2 linked regions of the Homo sapiens genome follow. The protein of the gene in region 2 purifies or fractionates together with the protein of the main gene of each other region. This does not show direct contact. Each region holds a gene or a part of one and is shown on either strand. Other genes may lie near its edges.

Region 1 (7,024 bases), on a different chromosome or scaffold from region 2:
ACCTGGTACTCAACCAAACAGTAATGTGTTCCCACATGGGCAAGAAATGACTACATGGGACCTCAAGATGTTGGTCTTCAATAGGGCACCTTCCTTAGATTTCTAAGAGGAATTTTAATTACACTCCATTTTTATCTTAGGCACTGACCTTAGAACTGAATCCTGGAGAGAGCTGAGACTCTTCTGTGGCAGTACCATGGGACACATAGAAGTAGCCTATACCCTGGCTCTGGAAGTTGGGGACTGCCTCCTAGAAGGGCCCCTAAGACCTTAAGTTGGTGAGGGGAAGATTGAGGCGGGAGGGGGAGAAGCCTGGGCGGAAGCATGTCACTGGAGGTAGAAACAGCTCTGTGCACAGTCTGTAGGGCTAGTGAGATCAAGATACATTTAGGGAACTGGTGAGCAGAGGGCAGGGGAGATGGGGAGAACAGGCCAGGGATACTGCCAGAGGATAGACCTTGGTGAGCCTCATAACATGCTATCAAAAAGGGTGGAATTTATGTATGTATGTATTTTTTGAGACAGGTCTTGCTCTGCTGCCCAGGCTGGAGTGCAGTGGCTTGATCATAGCTCACCACAGCCTTGAATTACTGGGCTCATGCGATCAGGAGTGTGGAATTTATTCTCGGGGCAATAGTGAAGCTTTGGAAAACGTTCAAGCAGAGGAATAACAGAATCAGATATATATTTAAGAAAGTTCATCCTGAAGCATGTGAAAAGGTGCCCGACATCATTAGTCATTAGGGAAATACAAATCAAAACCACAATGAGAGCCAGGCGTGGTGGCTCATGCCTGTAATCTCGGCACTTTGGGAGGTCAAGGCAGGAGGATCACTTGAGGCCAGGAGTGCTAGACGGCCTGGGCAACATAACGAAACCCCATCTGTACAAAATGTATTTTAAAAAGAAAAAATAAAAACAAAAAACTACAATGAGATACCACTTCACACCAGAAAATAATGAGTGTTGGTGGAGATGTGGAGAAACTGGAACCCTCGCACACTGCTGGTGGAATGGAAAATGATACAGCTGCTTGGAAAAACCACCTGGTGGTTCCTGAAAAGGTTAAAGATAATTATGACTCAGCAATTCCACTCCTAGGTATATACCCAAGAGTCATGAAAATACCTGTCCCTGCAAAAACTTGTTCGGGAATGTTCGTAGCAACACTATTCATAATAGCCAAAAAGTAGGGCCAGGTGCAGTGGCTCACACCTGTAATCCCAGAACTTTGGGAGGAAGAGGTGGGCAGATCACCTGAGGTCAGGAGTTCGAGACCAGCCTGACCAACATGGTGAAACCCTGTCTCTACTAAAAATACAAAAAATTAGCCAGCGTGGTGGCACATGCCTGTAATCCCAGCTACTCTGGAGGCTGAGGCAGGAGAATCGCTTGAACCCCGGAGGTGGAGGTTGCAGTGGGCCGAGATCGTGCCATTGCACTCCAGCCTGCACAACAAGAGCGAAACTGTGTCTCAAAAATAAATAATAGAAATAGAAATATATATATATAGCCCTAAAGTAGAAACAACTCAAATGCCCATTAACCAATGTGGATTAAAAAAAAGGTGGCATACCCATAAAATGGACTATTATTTGGCAATTTTAAAAAATGAAATACTGATAGAAGCTATGACATGGATGAACCTCAGAAATATGTTAAGAAGCCAGTCACAAATAGACACATAGTATATGATCCCATTTATATGAACTATCCAGAACAGGCAAATCCACAGAGAGAGAAGGAAGATCAGTGGTGGCCAGAGGCTAAGAGGGAAGAGGGAATAGGGAGAATTGCTAATGGACTCAGGGTTTCTTTGGGTGATCAAAGTGTTTTAAAATTGATTACGGTGCTGGTGCATAACTGTAAATATACTAAAAGCCACTCAAGTGTACACTTTAAATGGCTGAACTGTATGCAAATTACATCTAAATTAAGCTGGTAACAACAACAAAGGTTCATCCCGCTGCAGTGTGCAGAATGGAGACAGGGCAGAGACCAGTGAAGAGGCTGCTGTACAAATGCAGCTGGAAAGGGCAGTGGCTGAAGAACGGAGAGGGGTTCACAGGATCAGACTACAAGGGGGCCAGAGGAGGAGACTACATCCTGAGGACGCCACAAATTATCCTGGGTACCTGGTAACTCTCCAGAGAGGAGAGTGGGAAACAAATGAGGTATCTGCAATTATCATCAAGCAGCAAACATGTATGTAAAATCTCCTACACATAAGACTAAGAGGAACACACAAAGTGTGCAGCCCTGTGCCCACATGTGTGGGGAGTGTCCAGGGTAAAATCACGCCCAGCTGCCTGCCACGGGCCTGTCCTGACTATCCATTCTTACTCTTAAACTCCAAAGAAAAGGCCTCATCATTCAGGACACACTCAAGATGTTGCAAGATCTGAGTGACTGAGAGTGGGCAGGAGGGTTAGAGAAACTAATAAGGCCAGTAACTCCGAGAAGTAAAAATCTTTAAAGCTGCCTTTCTGGGTTCTCTCTGTGTGTCTGTGAAAACTGTAAGGTTACTCGAGTGTGTATTTCTCTTGGTTACATCAAAGACCCAGTTTTGACTGCACACCACCTCCTTCCAGAATGGCTTCGCTGATCTGTAGCAGGAGACTGCTGAGTGCTGAAAGGCCGTGGAACAAATGGACCTGAGCTGCTGGTGTAAAACCAAAAGGAAAGTCTGTGAAGGAGCATATTCTAAACCCTGCAGAGGCATGCCAGCTGGGACGCTGACCACAAGACATCTTTGCCCCGTCAGTAGAAGCAGAGACTGTGCTGGGATGGGAATAAGCCCCTGTCTACACCTCATGCGCGCCCTCAGTTGTCTCCCTGGCGCCTCCTCCACCTGCAGTAGAAATTCATGCTGGCGAGCCCACTGCCGTCACAGCTTGGGAAGAGTAAACCGCCACTGAGATGCACCAACAAAGCCAGGAATTCTGGTAACAGCCCACTCAACTGCTAGACGGGAAAACTGAGGCCCAGGTCCATGGAGCAGAGCCAGGGGTTGGCATCCAGGTGTCCGATTCTCAGGCCCCCGCACTCCTCACTCTACCAACTCCCCAAACCCTGACCCTTCCTAAGAACCTGGCTCTCAGCTGTATGCTTCACAGGGAAAGAAAAGCTGAGAAATCTCAGATGTCTTAAGTCTCAACTGGCAGAGAAACCAGAACCATCTCTTTCCTAGAATCCTAATAAGAAGCTGAAATATATCATGGTTATATCCTCTAATCTCTCTAAAGGGAGGGAGAAAAAGCAAGGTTAATCAACAAAATATGGGACAATACAGTTTTTGTTGCAGCTCTCAAATCTTGCAGCCCTTTACTTCCTTTATTAATAACAGTGTTCTGCATTAATTCGTGCCACAGTGTAATCAACTATCAATGTGACCATTAGCTCCGCCACAAGTAAAGATCGACAGGATCCAGGCTGCACTGTGTGCACAACAGCCCAGGCAGGTGAAGAGTCGTGACATCGCAAAAAGGACCACGGTTTATTACCATCTCTAACGCCCATGTTCCAGCAAACCGAAGAAAAACACTGTTTCTTAAAACTGCAGAGGAATACAAAATTAAATACTACAAAACAAAAATCAGACAGGAAGACGAAACAATCTACCTCCTCCTAATGGTAAAATAATCTGAAAGGAGTTTAAAAATAAATGAACTAAAATTTTTATAACTATTATCTTTTCTGCCAATTTTGAAGATGTCTTCAGGTGCCACAACGTGGGGACAGAAAGAATAAATATCAATGTATAACTTCTAGAGTGATAATAAACAACAGGACCCCATCTCAGATGGATGGATTTTTTTTCCTACTGGAGCCAAAAAACAAGCTGAACTCTATGTACAACAGACAGACTATACAACTAGGAGCATTTAAAAATAATAAGACTCCTCTCTCTGCCTTCTTCCAAAGAATAGAATATATATTTAACAGCACAAAAGACGACACCACTTGAGCTTCCCCTTTAGCCAACAGGAAGAATTTCCACATATAAAAATTAAAAATTTAAACTTTCAAATCATTCATGTTTTAAACATAATACAGACTTAAAAATTCTTCAACATTGACCCATAATCCCACCCCAGCACAAAAATCAACCCCAAATCCAGACGTCACAGTTTTTTGTTCCTAAAAATCCCACAGCACTGAACTTGATCTTCACATCAAGCTGACAGCACGTAAGAGGCCCATGCCATGAGCAATCCCCGAGGGAAGAACGGAAGCACAGTCAATGCTGCAGCTCTTATCTACCTGGGCGGCACTGGTGCACCTCTGAGGTCAGGTCCGTGAGATTCGCCCCACACTAGGGTCCCGGAAGGGTGAGCTGGCCGCTTCCCTCCTCTTCCCCCTCGAAGGATGTCCAATAAGCACCTGGGAATTGACTTTTCTTGGGAAAAGGGTGCTGGTAACAGCTGTCAGGGCCAAGGCAATAGTGAGAAGTTCAGTTCTCTGCTCTTTGGATGAACTGTGTAAAACATTTCTTTTAAAAGACACAATGTTAAAAATATTAAGAAAAATGTCTACAAAATCTGGAGGGCTGCCTTTTTCTCAAAGGGTAAAGCCTGTGGGGTGGTGGGAAAGGAATCGAGGGCCCAGAACTACAACTCTGCAGCGAAAGATAGAGATGCCCTTGAAAATGTGTCACATTCTTAAGATGTCTTGCCGAAGTAGCAAGAGCGGAGGGTGACTGTGTGAGCAGGAGCGAGAGGGCGCCAGCTCCTGCGGGGGAGGTTCCTACTGCGCGCCCCACCCTGTGCAAGAATGTCAGGCTTTAGGGCAGCTGCCATAGGCCCCAGGGGCATCAGGACTCTGCCTCTGAACCAGAGCTGCTTTCCCGACTAACTTCAATCTGGAGAGATGGTAAGTTATCTAACCGGCTCTTCTTTTGGCGAGACTGCTCTTTCTCCTTAATCAGAGCCCCCCATGCCCTTTGCAGCTCAGAGTCGTCTTCCTCAGCGCCAGGCGCCCTGTGATCCACTTTCTTCGTATTCTTTTCTTTGGTCTTGGGTGCAGATCCTAGGCGAGTCCATAAATTACCTGTTTGGATGAGATGGCATTTCACTTTCGCAGTCAGCGCTAAGAACCAGGGTAGCACTGAGGGGGCAGCAGCACTGCCAACACCTGCTGTGCAGGAAACGCCAGCAGTCTGTGGAGCCTGCCACCACAGTGCAGCCTTGGGCAGGCAAAATCTCATTTCCCGGGCCGCAGCCCCTGCCCGCAAACGGAAGGGTCTGGACCCAGCACGGGATTCTCACCGTGGGGGGACAGGTCAGGTCCCTCCCTGTCACCAGACACATCAGAATCACCTGAGAGGCCGTTTCCTCCTACTCCTGCCCTTCCCTGCTGAGACACCACCCTGTGTGCCAATCCATTCTGCCAGAAGTAGGCCACTCCCAGATCCCTTCCATTAATTTTTGAAATATATTTTATGAAAATTTAACAATAGAGAAATACGTGTTTAGAATTTTGTAGACGGCCACATTATAAGGCAATTCAAAGTTGTTTTTGTTTTTGTTTTTGAGACAAGGTCTTGCTGTTGCCCAGGCTGAAGTGCAGTGGTGCAGGCGCCCACCACCACGCCCGGCTCATTTTTGTGTTTTTAGTAGAGACAGGGTTTCACCATGTTGGTTAGGCTGGTCTCGAACTCCTGACCTCAAGTGATCCCCCCGTCTCGGCCTCCCAAATTGCTGGGATTACAGGTGTTGAGCCGCTATGCCTGGCCTAAAAGTTTTATTTATAAAGATTATAAAATGTGGCAAACAACTACGATAAAATGCTGTATGAAAAAACTAGGATTTGTATGTGGGCAAAGACCAGAATAGCTCACATGAAACTAAAAAGATTTGTGCCAAACAGAAAGAGCCAGGAGTGTGCTATTTTTTTCTATTTTCTAAGCGTTCCTAACTGTTGGGATGATGCTGATGCTGATGCTGACGATAACTATAATGGAAAAGGAATAATCACTTATATTTGGCGTGGGCTGTTTCTTGCCTTCTGCTAAGAAAGTATTTCTCCAATACACCCACTGTCCTCTGCTCTCACTGAATCCCCATTCCCATCCGTTTTAAGTGTTACCAACCTGATTTCTTCTCCCGAGTATCGGCGTAGAGGCCTTTACTATCCTGCCTGGGAACACCTAGCCTACTATGCACATCAGAAGAGGGCTCTCTCCGAACGACGGGGTTACTACTAAAAGCCTTTTCCGGAGAATGTGGTCTTTTTCCTAACCGCTGGCGTATATCTGAAAAAAGAGAAAAAGTGCACCAGTGACCGTGTGTGTGCTTTATGCTCGGCACCAGCCGCCTGACACCTCTAACGGATCTGGCGCTAACCCCTGCCCCGAGGACACAGGGCCTGACAATCAGGCTGCTAAGTATTCTTCCTTTGTAATCAGTCTGGATTTCCTTAGGAAAATTCGGACATAGGGGCTGTCAGAGGAAAAATCCTCAACTGATTACTCCAGAACTATATTTCTGAAGAAACAACCTTTTTTTTTTTTTCTTTAAGCAGAATCAAGAAGACTAAGTAATTTACAAAAGTTTCAGCGAACAAAAAATCCTGTGAGCTCCTGGAAAGTGGAAGGCACAATCTTTGAACATACAAGTAGTTCCCAATAAACTTATTACATTTAACCAGTAAATATAAAGAGACTGGAAAAGGCAAAGGATCAAATGTGTTTTTCCCTCAATCCCCCCAGAAATCGGCCTGTCCTCTTGAGTTCCCCCTAACCACCACAGCAACAACAGAAACACATTCGTTGGTGAGGCCCTGTGCCGAGGTCTCCTCTCACTTTAGCTTCTCTCAGAGAGCAGCACCCTGGTCTCTGGTCACTGAGACCTGAGCTCCTTTCCTCCAACACTTCCTAGCACTGAGTCTTCCTTCACAAGACTATCCTGTTCTTTATCCATTCTGTCTCCACCGACCTAGTTCAGGCTCTTGTTACTTTTTTAACTCTCTACCCCACCCCACTCCACCCTCAAGTTGTCTTTCTAAAATAGATGTAAGATCAGGT
Region 2 (7,905 bases):
CCTCCCCCTGCCCTGAACTGCCCATCAGTAACTGAGTCCCTCTCAACAGCCCTGCCCTGAGCCAGGTACCTCCTCTCCCACTAGGGTTCCAGCCCCAGCTTCCTCCTTGGTCTCTGGGCTCCAGTATCACCTCCTCGCACCCACCACCGCACAGCACCCAGAGGCGTCTTCCTAAAGAGCTGTTCTGACCGGTCCCACCCCTGCTCAAGGCTCTCCCTGGCTCCCCAGTGCCCTCAGGACAAAGTCCAAACTCATCCTGGTGGCATTCAGGGCCTAGCACAGCCTGGCCCCTGCTGACCTGCCCAGGTCAATTCTCTCCTAACCAACCCTCCAACTTGAAGCTCCAAGCTCTCTCTTGCTTCCAACATTTGCACAAACTGTTCTTTCTGCCTGAAACATGTTCCCCTCGCCTTTTCAACTGGCTATTGTCTACTCACCACTCAAGCCTCAGAGTCCACTCCTCCAGGAAGCCCTCCCTGATATCCCCAAGGCTGGGTCAAGAGCCTCCTCTGGACTCCCACAGACCCCTGAATTTCCTGATTCCAGACTTGTCTGCTCTGGGGCATCCCTGAGGACAGGGCTGTCTCCCTGACTAGACGGTGGACCCTGGAGGGGGCAGGCCTGGGTCTGTCTCAGTCACAGCTATATCCCCAGCACCACTCAGCACTGGGGCTGGTAAAGATCTTGGGGAATATTTGTGAACAAATGAATGAATGAATGAATAATGGAATGAAAGAAGGGATGTCAGGCTAAGGCCTTTGGCCTTTATCCTGACAGTGATGGGGAGCCATGAAAAGGTTTTAAGGAAGGGAGAGGTGAGAAAAACTCACTGCGGGGAAGAGAGGGGATGGGGTCTCCCAGGGCGGGGCTAGGGCACCTGGTAGCGCCGGATGAGGGCCTCATTCTTCCGCCGAAGAGCCTCGATCCTCTTGTCCAACTCAGCATCCTTCTCCTCCTTTGATTTCAAATCGAGTGTGGCTGCCTGAGACCGGGAGGCAGTTGAGGGATGGAAGGAAAAACCTCCATCCATACCAGGGACTTTCCCCCAGGGTCTGAGAGTCTGCCCCTATGGATCCCATCCTCCCAAGCCCCCTTCCCCAAAACTCAGATTCTAGAGACCCCATTTTTCAGCCTCACCATTTCGCTGGCTGCGTGGAGCCAAGGTCCCAGCAAACCTCCCCTGCAGAATCTAGACGCAGCACTGAGGGTTCCTGGGGACAGAGGGAAAAAAAGGACAAAGGCCAATGGCCCCCCAACCTACTTCACCCTCTAACATACTGCGGGATCCTCACAGCCATACACAAAAAACCCTGTACCCCAAGAGAATTGTAGCCCTCACTCTCCCTCCTTTCAACTGCCACCTCCATCTTCTCCATAGAAATTCAGACTCAGCCCTTTCATGATCTTTGTGGACTCACCCAGTTCCCATGTAAACGATCTAGTCAAACCCACCTTGGGGATGTTCTGGCCCCCACCCACTGCTTAAGTATCCAACACTGCTCTCCTCCAAAGGCTGATTCTAGGCCAGCCGCCACACCCTGTGGTATGAGTGTTAGCCCGGGTTCCCTATCTCAAGAGAGTTCCAACTACAACCCCTCCAACCAGCCTGCAAAAGAAAGTTCCAGACCCACCTCCCTGTGCTCATCCTGGTGCCTCTCATATCCAGGCGAATATTCTAGCTCCACCAGGTAAGGTTCAGAAACATTCCCAATCCCACGCTCAAAGAAAGTCCGAACCCCACTCTTATTGGCTGCCCAAGCTCTCAGAGAACATTCCAAGCCCGCGCCTTCCTCAGGGACGTCCTAGTCCCGTCTCCAGCGCCCTACGGAAGGTCGACAGCCTCCCGCCTCCCCCGAAAGGATTCTGTACACAGGCCCAGAACTCACTGGCGAGGCTTCCTGGAACTGGCGTTTTGCCCCACTGAATACTCCACCCGCCCCAACAAGGACAAAACTACCCAGGCCCGCCCCAGATTTTCTGTGCAAAGCTCCAGCCTCAATCCGGCTGGGAATGCCAGGGCCACGTCCCCGACATCCTGGAAACCGCTCTGGCCCCGCCCACGGCTCGGGAAAAAACTTTCTGGCCCCGCCTTTCCCGCCAGACTTCTGGCCCCGCCCCCACCCATGGGCCATTAATGTGGCCCCGCTCCCGACTTTCCCAGCCACGCTCTTTCCCCGCCTCCTGGCTCGCAGGCAACAGCCTACACCCGCCCCTACCATCTCTTATTATTATTCCAGCCCCGCCCCCGGCCTGCCCAGTCAACCCTCTGGCCCCGCCTCCGATTGGCCTGGCCAACCTCCTGGACACGCCCCCTGACTCCCTCCCACACCTCGTTGCGTCAGCATCTGGCCCCGCCCATGGCTTCCCCAGGGTTCTGGCTCAACTCCCCGCTTCCCCGCCTCCCGGCCAACGCTCTGGCCGCGCCCGTGGCTCAGACGAAACTTTCTGGCTCCACCCCCAGCATTCCCCGCCAGCACCCTGGCCCCGCCCCCTGGCTCCCCCACTACATTGTGGCCCCGCCCCCGCCATTGCGTCAGCCTCTGGGTCCGCCCCCAACGTCCCGGCCAAGAATCTGGACCCACTTCCAGTAAGGCAAAACTTTCTGGCCCCGCCCACAGAGCTTCCGCCCGGCGTCCGAGCCCCGCCACACAGCTGAACAAGCAACACTATGGCCCCGCCCACAGTCCAGCCACAACTTTTAGGTCCCGCCCACAGCCGCCGGCCCAGGCTCTGGCCACGCCCCGCCCCGACCCTGCCCACCCACCCAACGGCCCGCCCCGCCAGCGCCCCTCCAGCTTCCCATGTGGGCGTCCTGTCCCCGCCCCCCGCAGAGAACTCCGACCCCGCCCGGGCCTGTTCGCACTCCCCGCCACGTGGGGCTTCAGGCCCCGCCTTCTCTGGGCGCGCTCCCGGCCCCCTCCCCCAGGTCACCTGTCCCGGAGACCCCGCGGCGTCCGCGACTCCGGCTCCGTCGGCCTCTGCGACCGCAGCTCCCGGGCCAGGCGCGTCACTTCCTGCCTGCACCACGTGAGGAAGGGAAATAAAGAGGGTCACTTCCGGTCCTGTGGGACCGTTTCCGGGAGCCTTAAAGGGGCCGCGCCTCCGCGATGGATGCGGGAGCGGGGCCGACTGGCCCCCCGGGTGTTCCGCAAGCTCATCCAACTTCCTTCTGCCTGAATTACCAACTTCCAGGAAAAGGAGACACCGTCCTCACTCCCTGGCCTCTACCTCTTTCTTCAAGCTGTTTCCGCCTCCAGCCCCTCATTCCTGGTTTCTATCAGTAGATGCCAAGCACTGGGCACTGACGCCTGGAAGCCTGGCGTGGTTCGAGCCCCCTCGTGCCAATGAAACCTTAGAGTTCGCTTTAGAAGCTTCAGATGTTCTACCGGCCGTGGGCGGTGGCTCACACTTGTAATCCCAGCACCTTGGGAGGCCGAGGCGGGCGGATCACCTGAGGTCAGAAGTTCGAGATCAGTCTGGCCAACATTGTGAAATCCCGTCTCTACAAAAAAAATTAGCCGGTTGTGGTGGCGCGCGCCTGTAATCCCAGCAACTCGGGAGGCTGAAGCAGGAGAATCGCTTGAACCGGGGAGGCAGAGGTTGCAGTGAGCCGAGATCATGCCACCGCACTGCAGCCTAGACGACAGAGCAGACCCCTTCTCGAAAATAAAATAAAATGCTGGGCGCAGTGGCTCACGCTTGTAATCCCAGCACTTTGGGAGGCCGAGGAGGGCGGATCACTTGAGGCCAGGAATTCGAGACCATCCTTGCCAACATGGTGAAACCCCGTCTCTACTAAAAATACAAAAAAAATCAGCCCGGCGTGGTGGCGGGCGCCTGTAGTCCGAGCTACTCCGGAGACTGAGCCAGGAGAATGGCGTGAACCCCGGGGGCGGAGCTTGCAGTGAGCCGAGATCGCTCCACTGCACTCTAGCCTGGGCGACACAGGGAGACTCCGTCTCAAAAAATATACATATACAAAAATTAGCCAGGCATGGTGGCGGGCGCCTGTAATCCCAGCTACTTGGGAGGCTGAGGCAGGAGCATCGCTTGAACCCGGGAGGCAGAGGTTGCAGTAAGCCGAGATTGCACCACTGCACTGCAGCCTGGGCGACAGAACGAGAGACTCCGTCTCAAAATAAAATAGGCCGGGCGCCGTGGCTCACGCCTGTAATCCCAGCACTTTGGGAGTCCGAGGCGGGTGGATCACCCGAGGTCAGGAGTTTGAGACCAGCCTGACCAACGTGGTGAAACCCTGTCTCTACTAAAAAATACAAAAATTAGCCAGGCATGGTGGCGGGCACCTGTAACACCTGTAATCCCAGCTACAGGCTGAAGCAGGAGAATCGCTTAAACCCGGGAGGCAGAGGTTGCAGTGAGCTGAGATCGTGCCATTGCACTCCAGCCTGGGCGACAGAGCAAGACTACGTCTCAAAAAAATAAATAACTGGCCAGGCGCAGTGGCTCATGCCTGTAATCCCAGCACTTTGGGAGGCCGAGGCAGGTGGATCACAAGGTCAGGAGTTCGAGACCAGCCTGGCTAACATGGTGAAACCCCGTCTTTACTAAAAATACAAAATTTAGCCAAGCATGGTGGCAGATGCCTGTAATCCCAGCTACTTGGGAGGCTGAGATAGAGAATTGCTTGAACCCGGGAGGCAGAGGTTGCAGTGAGGCAAGATCGTGCCACTGCACTCCAGCCTGGGCGACAAAGTGAGACTCCGTATCGAAAATAAATAAGTAAATGAAATCATAAAATATAAAATAAGGCCGGGCGCGGTGGCTCACGCCTGTAATCCCAGCACTTTGGGAGGCCGAGGCGGGCGGATCACGAGGTCAGGAGATCGAGACCATCCCGGCTAAAACGGTGAAACCCCGTCTCTACTAAAAATACAAAAAATTAGCCGGGCGTAGTGGCGGGCGCCTGTAGTCCCAGCTACTTGGGAGGCTGAGGCAGGAGAATGGCGTGAACCCGGGAGGCGGAGCTTGCAGTGAGCCGAGATCACGCCACTGCACTCCAGCCTGGGCGACAGAGCGAGACTCCGTCTCAAAAAAAAAAAAAAAAAAAAAGTATATATATATATATATATATATATATATATATATATATATATATATAAAATAAACGTTCAACCGATAGAATCAGTCGTTCATTCTCCCAAATCAGCATTGACTGCCAGGCTGCGTGCTGGGAGGAAAAGTTGGTGGGGGAACTGAGATGATGAACAAAGCTGACCCCATCCTTGTCCTCCTAAGGGAAGACACAAGTAAATGGGAAATAGCAGCACCTGTGGGAGATGCCTGGCAAGAGGGGCAGGAGAGGCCGGAGGGTGAGAGGCTGCCTGTGCAGGCCAAGGACACAACCTATGCAAAGGCCCTGTGGTGAATGAGCTTGGTGCATTCCCAAAACTAGAAGATACTCAAAGCAACAGCAGCTGAATAGCTGCAGAGTCCAGGAGGTTACAGCATTAACCAAAACTTAGACATAATAAAGCTAGTGTGACAAGCCGACCAGGCGCTGTGGCTCACGCCTGTAACCCCTGCTACTGGGGAGGCTGAGGCAGGAGAATCACTTGAACCTGGGAAATGGAGGTTGCAGTGAGCCAAGATTGAGCCACTGCACTCCAGCCTGGGCAACAAGAGTGAAACTCTGTCTCAGAATAAATAAATAAATAATAAAGGTATTGTGACAAATGATGATGAATGCTACAGAATACCCTCAGTTAAGGTGAATGACAGTTATAAGTGGACAGACCAGATTGCCTGTAGTGCCAGTCATTTTATTTTGTGATTTAAGACATAGAAAGTGGAAGTACCTGGTAATTCCTTACCATTTCTAAGGCTACTGTTCACAGCCTTTCAGAGATACCAATGAAACTTAATCCTCTTATAATTGTCCAAATAGCAATCTATGCATGTAACGAAATTCACTTGAGGCCAGTGCGGTGACTCATGCCTGTAATCCCAGAACTTTGGGAGGCCAAGGTGGGCAGATCACTTCAGCTCGGGAATTTGAAACCAGTCTGGGCAATAGAGTGAGACCTAGTCTCCACAAAAAAAATTAAAAATTAGGCCAAATACAGTGGCTCATGCCTGTAATTCCAACACTTTGGGAGGCAGAGGTGGGAGGATCATTTAAGGCCAGGAGCTCACTCAAGGTCAGCCTGGCCAACATAGTGGGACCCCCACCTCTCTCTCTCTCCATATATGTGTGTGTATGTGTTTGTATAAATATATATATATATTTTGTTTGTTTGTTTGTTTTTCTAAGACAGGTTTTGCTCTTTTTGCCCAGGCTGGAGTGCGATGGCGCAATCTCGCCTCACTGCAACCTCCGCCTCCCAGGTTGAAGCAATTCGCTGCCTCAGCCTCCTGAGTAGCTGGGATTACAGGCATCTGCCACCATGTCTGGCTACTTTTTTTTGTATTTTTAGTAGAGACAGGGTTTCACCGTTTTGACCAGGCTGGTCTTGAACTCCTGACCTCGTGATCCACCTGCCTCGGCCTTCCAAAGTGCTGGGATTACAGGCGTGAGCTACCGCGCCCTGCCGACTGTTTTCAACACATGAACTTCGACGGACACATTCAAACTATGGCAACTGTTCTGACAGAAAGAGGCTGCCCAGAGCACCCTGGGGAGAGCTGACTTGATGGAGCCTGAGTGGTGTGTGTGTCACCGCTGCTGCCCTCTCCAGCCACATCACTCCCTTTTGTGCATCCTCAAACTCCGTGTTCTTATCCAGTGGTTCTCAATGGAGGTAATTTTGCCCCCTAAAGGACATTTCTCAATGACTAGGGACATTTCTGGTTGTCACAAGAGAGGGTCCTCTTGACATCTAGTGGACAGAGGCCAGGGCTGCTCCTGAACACCTTCCAATGCCCAGGCCAGTCCCCAAGATAAAGACTCAGCCTCGGCTGGGCGTGGTGGCTCATGTCTGTAATCCCAGGACTTTGGGAGGCCAAGGCAGGAGGATCATCTGAGGTCAGGAGTTCGAGACCAGCCTGGCCAACATGGTGAAATCCCGTCTCTACTAAAACTACACACATGCAAAAAGAAATTAGCCAGGTGTGGTGGTGTGCACCTGTAATCCCAGCTACTTGGGAGGCTGAAGCAGGAGAGTCGTTTAAACCCGGGAGGCGGAGGCTTCAGTGAGCCGAGATCGCGTCATTGCAATCCAGCCTGAGGGACAGAGCAAGACTCCACCTCAAAAAAAAAAAAATTATCCAAGAGTGTCAGTGCACGCCTGTAGTCCCAGCTACTCAGGAGGCTGAGGCAGAAGAATTGCTTGAATTTGGGAGGCAGAGGTTGCAGTGAGCTGAGATCCCGCCACTGCACTTTAGCCTGGGTGACAGAGCGACACACTGTCTCAAAAAAATAAGTACACACACACACACACAAAATTAGCCAGGCGTGGCCAGGCACGGTGGCTCACACCTGTAATCACGGCACTTTGGGAGGCTGAGGTGGGTGGATCACCTGAGGTCAGGAGTTCATGACCAGCCTGGCCAACATGGTGAAACCCCATCTCTGCTAAAAATGTAAAAAAAATTAGCCGGGCATGGTGGCGGGCACCTGTAGTCCCAGCTACCAGGGAGGCTGAGGCAGGAAAATGGCGTGAACCCAGGAGGTGGAGCTTGCAGTGAGCTGAAATCACGCCACTGCACTCCAGCCTGGGCAACAGAGCCAGACTCCGTCTCAAGAAAAAAAAAAAAAAGAAAAATCTATCCGGGCGTCATGGTGGACGCCTGTAGTCCCAGCTGCTTGGGAGGCTGAGGCAGGAGAATTGCTTGAACCCAGGAGACGGAGGTTGCAGTGAGCCAACACAGTGCTACTGCACTCCAGCCTCGACGACAGAGTGAGACTGTCTCAAAAACAAAAAACAAAAAACAAAAAAAAATTAGCCG

What was found.
Region 1: the proteins of CCDC9 (region 2) and NCBP3 purify together in Homo sapiens (co-immunoprecipitation; 2 studies listed by BioGRID and IntAct, with this or other methods). This does not show direct contact.

What each region holds. Positions count from the first base shown.
Region 1 is NC_000017.11:3,808,231-3,815,254, forward strand, and holds part of NCBP3 (nuclear cap-binding protein subunit 3), read right to left. Parts: intron 6,254-7,024; coding exon 6,092-6,253; intron 5,050-6,091; coding exon 4,814-5,049; 3' UTR 4,425-4,813; coding exon of another isoform or gene 4,316-4,424; 3' UTR 1-4,315. UniProt on the Homo sapiens protein: Associates with NCBP1/CBP80 to form an alternative cap-binding complex (CBC) which plays a key role in mRNA export. NCBP3 serves as adapter protein linking the capped RNAs (m7GpppG-capped RNA) to NCBP1/CBP80.
Region 2 is NC_000019.10:47,251,636-47,259,540, reverse strand, and holds the start of CCDC9 (coiled-coil domain-containing protein 9), read right to left. Parts: upstream 3,017-7,905; 5' UTR 2,932-3,016; intron 2,045-2,931; exon of another isoform or gene 1,632-2,044; intron 1,212-1,631; 5' UTR 1,141-1,211; coding exon 1,138-1,140; intron 983-1,137; coding exon 878-982; exon of another isoform or gene 831-877; intron 1-830. UniProt on the Homo sapiens protein: Probable component of the exon junction complex (EJC), a multiprotein complex that associates immediately upstream of the exon-exon junction on mRNAs and serves as a positional landmark for the intron exon structure of genes and directs post-transcriptional processes in the cytoplasm such as mRNA export, nonsense-mediated mRNA decay (NMD) or translation.